Linked DNA regions of Homo sapiens: region 2 is linked to region 1. The links come from fine-mapping of genetic effects on gene expression. A gene starts in region 1. The other region holds a variant in brackets. All regions are shown on one strand. Distances are from middle to middle.

Region 1 (4,000 bases):
CAAATTATTCTATATAGTTTCGGCCTTAAGTATACTAAGAGCATACAATATAATAAAATCCAGCTTCTCTGGGCCTTTTGTTTTCAATGTGTATTTTTCTAAATCTGAAAATACCTATTCGGCAGCAAGTATAACAAAAGCAAAGACACAAATTAAAACTATTGATTATTCTGTTTAAGGCCAGGGTTTCTGAGTTTTAGTCTGATTTTAAAAAACCTCCGTCTGTCCCTCTCTCCCTCCCTCCCTCTCACGGTAACAGCCGGAGAGGCAAGTATGGTAAGGTCGACCTTTAAACGTTTGCTGGATCAGCACTGGGTGGGGATAAGAAAAGATCAAGGGCAAACAGAAGATATTTGCGAAAGGGATCTATTTGCACACTGAAGTTGATTTAAAAGTACGTTTAAAAATCAAGTTGGTCTTAATTCGTCTGTTCTATTTTCCATATTCGTGGTGACAAAGGGAAAAAGAATCTCTGGCTGCCCCCAAACTACAAACACTTTCCAAGTCAAAAGCCTGAGTGCCGGCAGAGGCAGCTGATTAAGCCCAATTGCTTGAAGGTGCAGCCGAGCGAAATTCAGGCTCGGTGGAAGGTAGTTACAAAGCAACGCCTTAAGACAGGCAGGAGTGTGAAGAATTACATAAACAGCCAGTTAGATCTCATTAGATTTCTGCTCACAGCCCTCGGAGCCCAAGCGCTACAGCAGCAGCAACAGCAAGAGGAGGTGGAGGTGGAGGAGGAAGAGAGTACGAGCCTCCTCGGAGAAGGAGGAGGAAGGCCCGGGAAATGGAAGAGCAACCTCTCCCGGCTGGGCACCCAGCACCGAGCAGGTCGGGGCGCCGGGTCAGCCGCTCCCCTCCCCCGCCGTAACCCGACCCGCTGCTCCCCGCCCCGTGGCCCCCGCCCCGGGCTCCTGGGAGCCGGCCAGAGCCTGGGGGAGCACCGGTTCCTCGGCACCATTTTCAGCCTCGCGGCCACCGGCCCCTCGAACCCCAGCGTTCCACCGCGAGCTCGTCGCTCCTCCGGGCACCCCAACCCCCCAATTCCCGTCAGCTCGCCCCGGGCCGCCCGTCCCCGGCCAACTGCCCAGGACGAGCCCGACGCGCCGGCGGCCCCTCGGAGCCGCTCCCCTCGGGTCCTGGCGCTGCCCCCTCGGCGCCCAGGGCCGCGACCCCGCCGTCCCCGAGCTCCCGAGGGCCCAGGGCTCGACGCCGCTGCAGCCCCTCCTCCGCCGCCTGGGCCCGGGGCTCCCGTCTCCTCGCCGACCCCGCCCGGCGCCCCGAGATACTTACGGGCTGCTTCGGGGCGGCTTGGACCACAGACCCGCGGCTGGGCGGGGAGCAGCGCGGCAGGGCGGGGGCGCGGGAGGGTCGGGAGCGGCGAGCTCGCCGAGTGCAAGACGTTGCCGCTGCGGGGCTGAGGACAGAGGACAGAGGCCTCGGGCAGGCCTTGGGAGATCGCCGTTAGTGGCTCGGGGTGGCGGGCACGGGGGTCAGACGAGCGCGCTCACTTCTCCACACAGCCCGGTGCCCGGCCCAGCGTCCCCGTAGTGCGCCCGCTACACGCCGGGCCAGAGCTTCGCTCCTTCTGCCGCGGCGCGCGCCCCGCCTCTCGTTTTATGGCCTCCTCCCCGCCCCCATCCCCTCCGTCGGGGTGCGCGCGCCCGCTCCGCGTCACACAGCTCCGGCGGCGCAGCCATTCCCCGCGCTCCCCGCCCGGCACCCCGGTCCCCCGCCGGCCGGCTCCGCCCCTGCCCTGCCCCCCGACGCCATTGGCCAAGTCCCGCCTGCCCCTGTCCGGACGCGCGGCGGACGCAGGGGTGGGGAAGCCGCACCCTCCGGGCTCCAGGAGGGCCAATGAACCGACGATCGGAGCACTGGGGACGGAATGAAGAGAACGTCTGGAAAGGGACTGTGGGGGCAGACGTGCCAATGAGAGAGAAAGGGGTGGGGTAGGGCGGCTGACGCCCGGTTTAGGCGGAGAGCGCCGGGCAGAGGGGGAGGGGGACGAAGCTGGTGGCGAAGCGGCTCAGGAGAACCGGGGCTGGAGGAGCGGCAAGAGTACCCAGAAAGTGCCCTCTCCGCGGGGGTCTGCGGCCAAGGAGGATCCTGCTCGTGGAATAGCTACCAAATCGGCCTCCAGCCCACCCCAGGGGCGGGGTAGAGAAAGGGCAAACTGTGACCGGGACTTGTGCACCCGATTAATTGAATATTAATCACCCCAAGGCCTAGGCCAACCGCCACCCAGAGAGTGGCAGCTGCAGAACCCAAAGACGTGGAGCCGGGCTGGGGGTGGGGAAGGGAGGCCGCCACAGCTCCCGCCCCGCCGGCAGTTTAACTGCTTCCGCAGCCTCAGGCCTCCCGGTGCGACCCCGGCTGCGACTCGGATCCGTTTATTCCAAATGTCCCAGCCCACGCCGTGCCCAGAGTGTGGCGACACGAGGCCAAACTGCGTATGTATCTGTGTCCATGTCTACACACACACGCATGCGTGCATTTCTAGGGCTTGCTGGATCGCAGGTGCACAGAATAAACGCGGTGCCTGCTTGTAAAGCGCGTTTAAGATCATTCTTGGCTGAAATATGTGCGGGTACCTAGGGAGTGGGGTAAGAGAGGGACTCGTGGTGGGGGGCGGGTAAGTGCCTTTTTCACAACCTGCCCCAGAGAAATACACGAAATTACATCGGGAGTGGAATCGAGCGTCCCTCTCAGCTAAAAATATTACTCACAGGTAGCAACGACGCCTGATTGGCTGCGCTGGTCCCTTCGCAACGAGGCGATTGGCTGCCTGGTATCCAGGAGACCGACGTCAAACTCGGACTGGGAAAAGGGGAAAGTCTGGGGGGAGCGAAGGAGGGGACGGGGAGAAAGAAGCAATGAATGAAACGCCCATCGCCTGGCCTTCCCCTTTCCCCTTTCCCCTCTCCTCTCCATTCTTGGAGCACTTCCTGGAAAAACACCAGTTGGGGCGCCGCCTTCCCCTCCAAACGTTGGGGCCTGCACTCTCAACCTGCTATAAGGAAGTTAAACCGCAGCTCACCGAGGAGTAGGGTGTCTACGGGGCGGGCCCGTGTAGACCAGCTGTGCTCCTCGGGCACAAACCCGCCGTACATGCCAGGCCTAGAAGCTTTTGGCTTTGTGGACGCAAAATCTGGTTGGAGCCGCCTTCTCCACCCTGACTCTCCCGCCTCTCCTTTTTAGAAGGAACCGCACTGAGAAAGGGTATTTCTGAAGGCTCAATGCGTAGGAGAAGGGGTGGGAAGATGGGTTTGTGGAATGGGCTGAGGGTGGGGAGTGGTCAGGTGACTGATTTCATGTTTATTGTACAGATTCCTAAAACATAGTTTTACTAAGTGACTCCTTAAATTCTGATTAATGTGATTTTTTTTTTTTTTTGAGTGTTTGGGTTTTTTAGTTGCAAACAGGAGTGGAATTGAAATGTGAAAGTATGGCAAAACTGTGAAAGCATTTAAATTAAAATGTCCCTTCCTCTGCATTGAAATGTCATCAAAGCGTCAAATATAAATGATTTGTTCAGTTTTCTTTTTTTATTTGTTTGTTTTTGGTTTTCTGTAATGACAAGTCCATCTGTAATAAAAGTGAGTTATTTTTAGTTTTCTAATTAAGCACAGAAATTTCAAGAAACTAGACAGGATATCCTTGGAATGCCTTACCAAAAGAAACACTTCATTTTTCACGTGTTCTAGAAGCACAACTTCTTTTACCATTAGGCAAATAATGGTACTGTACCAAACATCTAGAACTGCGGGACCATGTGTCTTGATTAGTAATTTTATATTGGGGGGGCATATTAGGCATGGCTGAGACTAAAATGTCTAAAGATAGATGAATTGTAATTTTGTCAAACTTATCTGTACTTTTCAATAATTCTCTAAAGAGAAGGGACAAGTTCTCTTTTCTGAATGTCTTCAATCTGTAATTCCAGATTTGAAATATGAGAGCAGTCATCTGATAGGTACTGATTAAATATCAGTAGCATTAA
Region 2 (4,477 bases), 41 kb after region 1:
CAGCAGCCTAAGCTCCCAGTGATTCTCTGGGGGAGGGATTTCTGATGGGGCTGGTTCTAAAGAAAAGCTCTCCAGGGCAGGGCCTGTGAAACCCAAGGACTGACTGCTGCGGGGGCTGGATAGCCTTTGGGGACAGAGGAGGGGAGAGGGTGGCAGAACCTAAACAGCTGCGGCCGCTGCTTTGTCCAAGGGCAACCCAGCCTCCCAGGTGTGGCCATCACCTCTGCCTCTGACCTGAGTCTCAGACCAGAGCCAGCTGAGGCCTGGGTGCTCCCTTCAGCCCCTTCTGGTTCTGCAATTCAAGGCCCAGTTAACCCCCTGTGGGGTCATAGAGAAGCTTGCAGAGGGTGAAGCCTGGGACCTGATTCTGCTCACCCTGGACTCTGGCCCAGCCAGTGCCTTCTGGCAACAGGGACCCTCTGGGGTCCCAGGAGCCCTGGAACCTCCTCTGCTCCCTCTGGCTCTGTCTCCTGCCCCACCCCCTTCCCTGTTGCCACCTGCACCTGTTTTTCCAGCCTTGCTCAATCTCTCCAATCCACAGGCTGTTTGTTCCCAGGGGTCGCCTCCCCTTATCTCCCAGGCAGCTGTTGGCCATGGCCTGAAGGTACAGAATTCATTGTTAACTCTTCAGCTTCCCTCACACACTCCACCCCCAAAAACCATAGCAGCAAAGAGCACCAGGGAGGGCCCAGGTTTGGGGTCTGGGGTCTGGCCCTCCCTGCTGTGTGACCTTGCCTCATTGTGTGACCTTGAGCTGGTCACTTACCCGCTACACTTCTGTTTTCTCATTGGTAAAATGAGAGCATTTTACCTTTTTATTACCTCAGCTCTGTACCTCTTCCCCCGCCACACACACACACACTCACAAACTCTTTCTCTCTCTCTGTCTCTCTGTTCTTAAAATGTAGGGCTATCAAGTAACACTCATCCAATAATTATTAATTCAGGAGCTGATTTTTTTTTTCCAGACAGTCTCGCTCTTGTCCCCCAGGCTGGAGTGCAGTGGCTCGATCTTGGCTCACCTCTGCCTCCCAGGTTCAAGCAATTCTCCTGCCTCAGCCTCCCAAGTAGCTGGGATTACAGGCACCTGCCACTACGCCCGGCTAATTTTTGTATTTTTAGTAAAGATGGGGTTTTCCCATGTTGGCCAGGCTGGTCTCAAACTCCTGACCTCGTGATCTGCCTACCTCGGCCTCCCAAAGTGCTGGGATTACAGGCATGAGCCACCATGCCCGGCCAGGAGCTGATTTTGTATGAAGCAAAACTAATCAGAGCTTCTGAGCAGCATGTCCTGGTTTTGTTTCATACAAAACAGAATCCTGAATGAGTAATTACTGAATAAATGTACATTTATCATGTCCCTCATAATTCCAGCAATGAAACTTGACATTTTAGTTAAGCCAGTGTACCCTTCTCACAGATAAATATTCTATTTTCTGTTAGGATTTTATAAAGATAAAAAACAGCAACAGGTCTCTTTCTCCCTGCTCTTTTCTGATCTGGGGTGGGGTGTGGGGAGCCAGGAACAGGTGATCTTCCAGACCCCTTGTATTGCTGGGTTAGGAGGCCCACGTGTGTTCCATTGGCGAATACACTAGTCAATCATTAGGCCCATCATCAGTCCCACCTACCAATGCCTGGCCCCCATCAAAGACCAGTACAGAATAGAGAAGGGCCAGCAGGACCGGGGCAGAAAACCCTGCTCCCATCACAAACCCTTCTGCCTCTGCCCGCCCAGCCCACAATGAACACCAGAATTCAGAGCTACTGCCAGTGGAAATGGGAAGGGACCACCTCTGTGAGCACTTTAGGATTTCTCCAAGGGATGAGAAAGACTGGTTAAGAGTTCAGGGGGGCACAGTGGCTCACACCTGCAATCCCAGCACTTTGGGAGGCCGAGGCAGGAGGATCACCTGAGGCCAGGAGTTTGAGACCAGCCTGGTCAACATGGTGAAACCCCGTCTCTACTAAAAATACAAAAATTAGCCAGGCATGGTGGCAGGCACCTGTAATCCCAGCTACTGGGGAGGCTGAGGCAGGAGAATAGCTGGAACCTGGGAGGCAGAGGCTGCAGTGAGCCAAGATTGCGCCACTGCACTCCAGCCTGGGCAACAGAGTGAGACTCTGTCTCAAAAAACAAAAAAAAAAAAAAAAAGGCTGGGCACAGTGGCTCACGCCTGTTATCCCTGCGCTTTGGGAGGCTGAGGCGGGTGGACCATGAGGTCAAGAGATCAAGACCATCCTGGCCAACGTGGTGAAACCCTGTCTCTACTAAAAAAAAAAAAAAAAAAAAAAACTCTACTAAAAAACAAAAACAAAATACAAAAAAATTAGCTGGGCATGGTGGCATGCGCCTGTAGTCCCAGTTAGTCAGGAGGCTGAGGCAGGAGAATCACTTGAACCCGGGAGGCGGAGGTTGCAGTGAGCCGAGATTGCACCACTGCACTCTAACCTGGGGCGAGACTC[T/C]GTCTCAAAAAAGAAAAAAAAATCCATTCCCTACTGGACAGTCTACCATGATGTCTTAGAGGTGCCTCAAATTCAATTTGTTTAAACCAACCCATTGTTCTCCCTCTGGGGATGGGAGGGATGCCCCTCTGGCTGAAACCCCAACCTATACATCTGACCGTCAATCACCCAGGCTCTGCCTTCTGACCCTTAACTCCCCTCAGCCCCTGTCAGGACTTCTAGGCCAGAGCTCCAGTTCCTAATGGTGTTTTCTCCTTCACCTCCCTCAGCCCAGTCCTCACCAGGGCCCTCATGGCTCATGGTGGGGGCCTCCCATCTTCCCACCCATCACCACACTGGAGCCAGGGGGCTTTTTCACATCACCTGTGATTGATCATCCGTAGCCTTGATCAAAACCTTCAGTGACTTCATGCAAGGACACAACATGTATGCGAGACAATGGGGAGAAAAACAGGGAGTAACTAAAGTTCTTGGGGGAAAGGTGGTGAACCACTAATCACTCCAGACCTTTAATTTCACAAATGAGAGATATGAGACTCAGAGACACAGAGTACCCAGCTCAAGGTCACCCAGCAAGGCAGAGGGAGATGGTGTATTTGGGGGACAGTGACGCTCTGTCCCACCTGGCATGCTGTCCACCCCCCATGTCCTCACTGGGCACTGTACTCCAGCCACATGGAGCTTCTGTGTGCCCTAAACTTGAACAGCTCTTTCACTCTACTTCCTTCCTCATGTAGGCATGTCCTTCCTCTCCTCCCCACATCCACAGTCCTAGCCACCCGCCCAGGCCCAGCTCAAGTGCTGCCTCCTCCAGGAAGGCTTCCCTGAATGCCTATGCTGACCTCCTCTGCATGCCTTCCCTCCCATCACTCAGCATTCTCAGGTTTGGTTAGAATCATTCTTGGGCATGTCCTCCAGACAGGGTGGGACTTGTCTTACTCACCTTCATATCTTCAAGAGCACCCTGCACAGTGCCTGGCCTGTCACAGGTGCTCGACAGGTATTTCTGGAAGGAATTATCATTACATTTATATTGTCATTATGCATGTCTGGCATTGACAGTTGAGTCAGCCACTGTGCTCAGTGTACGAGTCAGAAGACATGCGTCTTCAAAACAGTCCCAACGATTAGCCCCATTTCACAGATGAGGAAACTCAGGCTCAAAGGAAATTGATTGCTTGCCCTGGGTCCCACTGCTGGAAGGAGGCAGAGTTGAAACTTGACCCCAAGTGCGGCTGATTCTAAAGCCTGTGACTCTTTGTTTTTGTTTTTGTTTTAAAGACGGAGTCTTGCTGTGTTGCCCAGGCTGGAGTGCAGTGGCATGATCTCTGTTCACTTCAACCTCCGCCTCCTGAGTTCAAGCGATTCTCCTGCCTCAGCTTCCCAAGCAGCTGGACTACAGGTATGTGCCACCATGCCCGGCTAATTTTTATAATTTTAGTAGAGACGGAGCTTCACCATGTTGGCCAGGCTGGTCTCAAACTCCTGACCTCAGGTGATCTGCCTGCCTCTGCCTCCCAAAGTACTGGGATTACATGTGTGAGCCATAGCATCTGGCCCAGCCAAGCCTATAACTCTTAATCTCTGTGTTCTCTCTGCAGCAGGGATGACGGCGCTCCTGGAGGCTGGCTGGGAAGCTGGTCAGGGTCCCAGGACTCTGACACCCCCAATGGCCCTTGTAGCCTTGGGGAGTCCTGTGATCCAAGGCTGGAGGACTGAGTCCCCTCCAGGTCTCATAGCAGACGAATAGCAGCTTCACCCAGGCCTGTTTTGTCGTGGCCCCATTCAGAGGCCGCCCTCCTCTGTGGTTTAGAGCATGCCCTGGAATCCCTAGCACAACCAGGTGACGAGAGTTCCCCGCTGGCCCCCTGCCGCGGGAACACAAAGTACCTTTGCACATAACCTTTCTTTGTCCTCTGCTGGTGACGGCAAATAGGGCAGGCCCAGGGCAACGTGGTAAGGTGGCAGAAGTTTGTTTTGGACAGTGTTTGCAGCTTCTCTGTTCCCTTTC

The links. PIP is the estimated chance that this variant, and not a neighbour inherited with it, causes the effect.
Region 2: its variant is the best candidate, but not a certain one, in a credible set for the expression of TOB1 in whole blood (INTERVAL, PIP 0.77).

Annotation. Positions count from the first base shown.
Region 1 is chr17:50,864,768-50,868,767 of GRCh38, forward strand. TOB1 (transducer of ERBB2, 1) reads right to left here and starts at 1,587. Exons shown (of 2, transcript NM_005749.4): 1 at 1,291-1,587. It overlaps TOB1-AS1 (TOB1 antisense RNA 1), which reads left to right and starts at 1,912. Exons shown (of 2, transcript NR_038458.1): 1 at 1,912-2,450; 2 at 2,729-3,604. RefSeq lists an enhancer at 203-252 and silencers at 793-1,402, 1,413-1,922.
Region 2 is chr17:50,905,089-50,909,565 of GRCh38, forward strand. No RefSeq gene overlaps it. Among named protein-coding and RNA genes, the nearest start is that of TOB1-AS1, 41 kb to the left of the region's middle. RefSeq lists an enhancer at 3,743-4,477 and a silencer at 4,180-4,474. The variant T/C (reference allele first, on the strand shown) is at 2,467.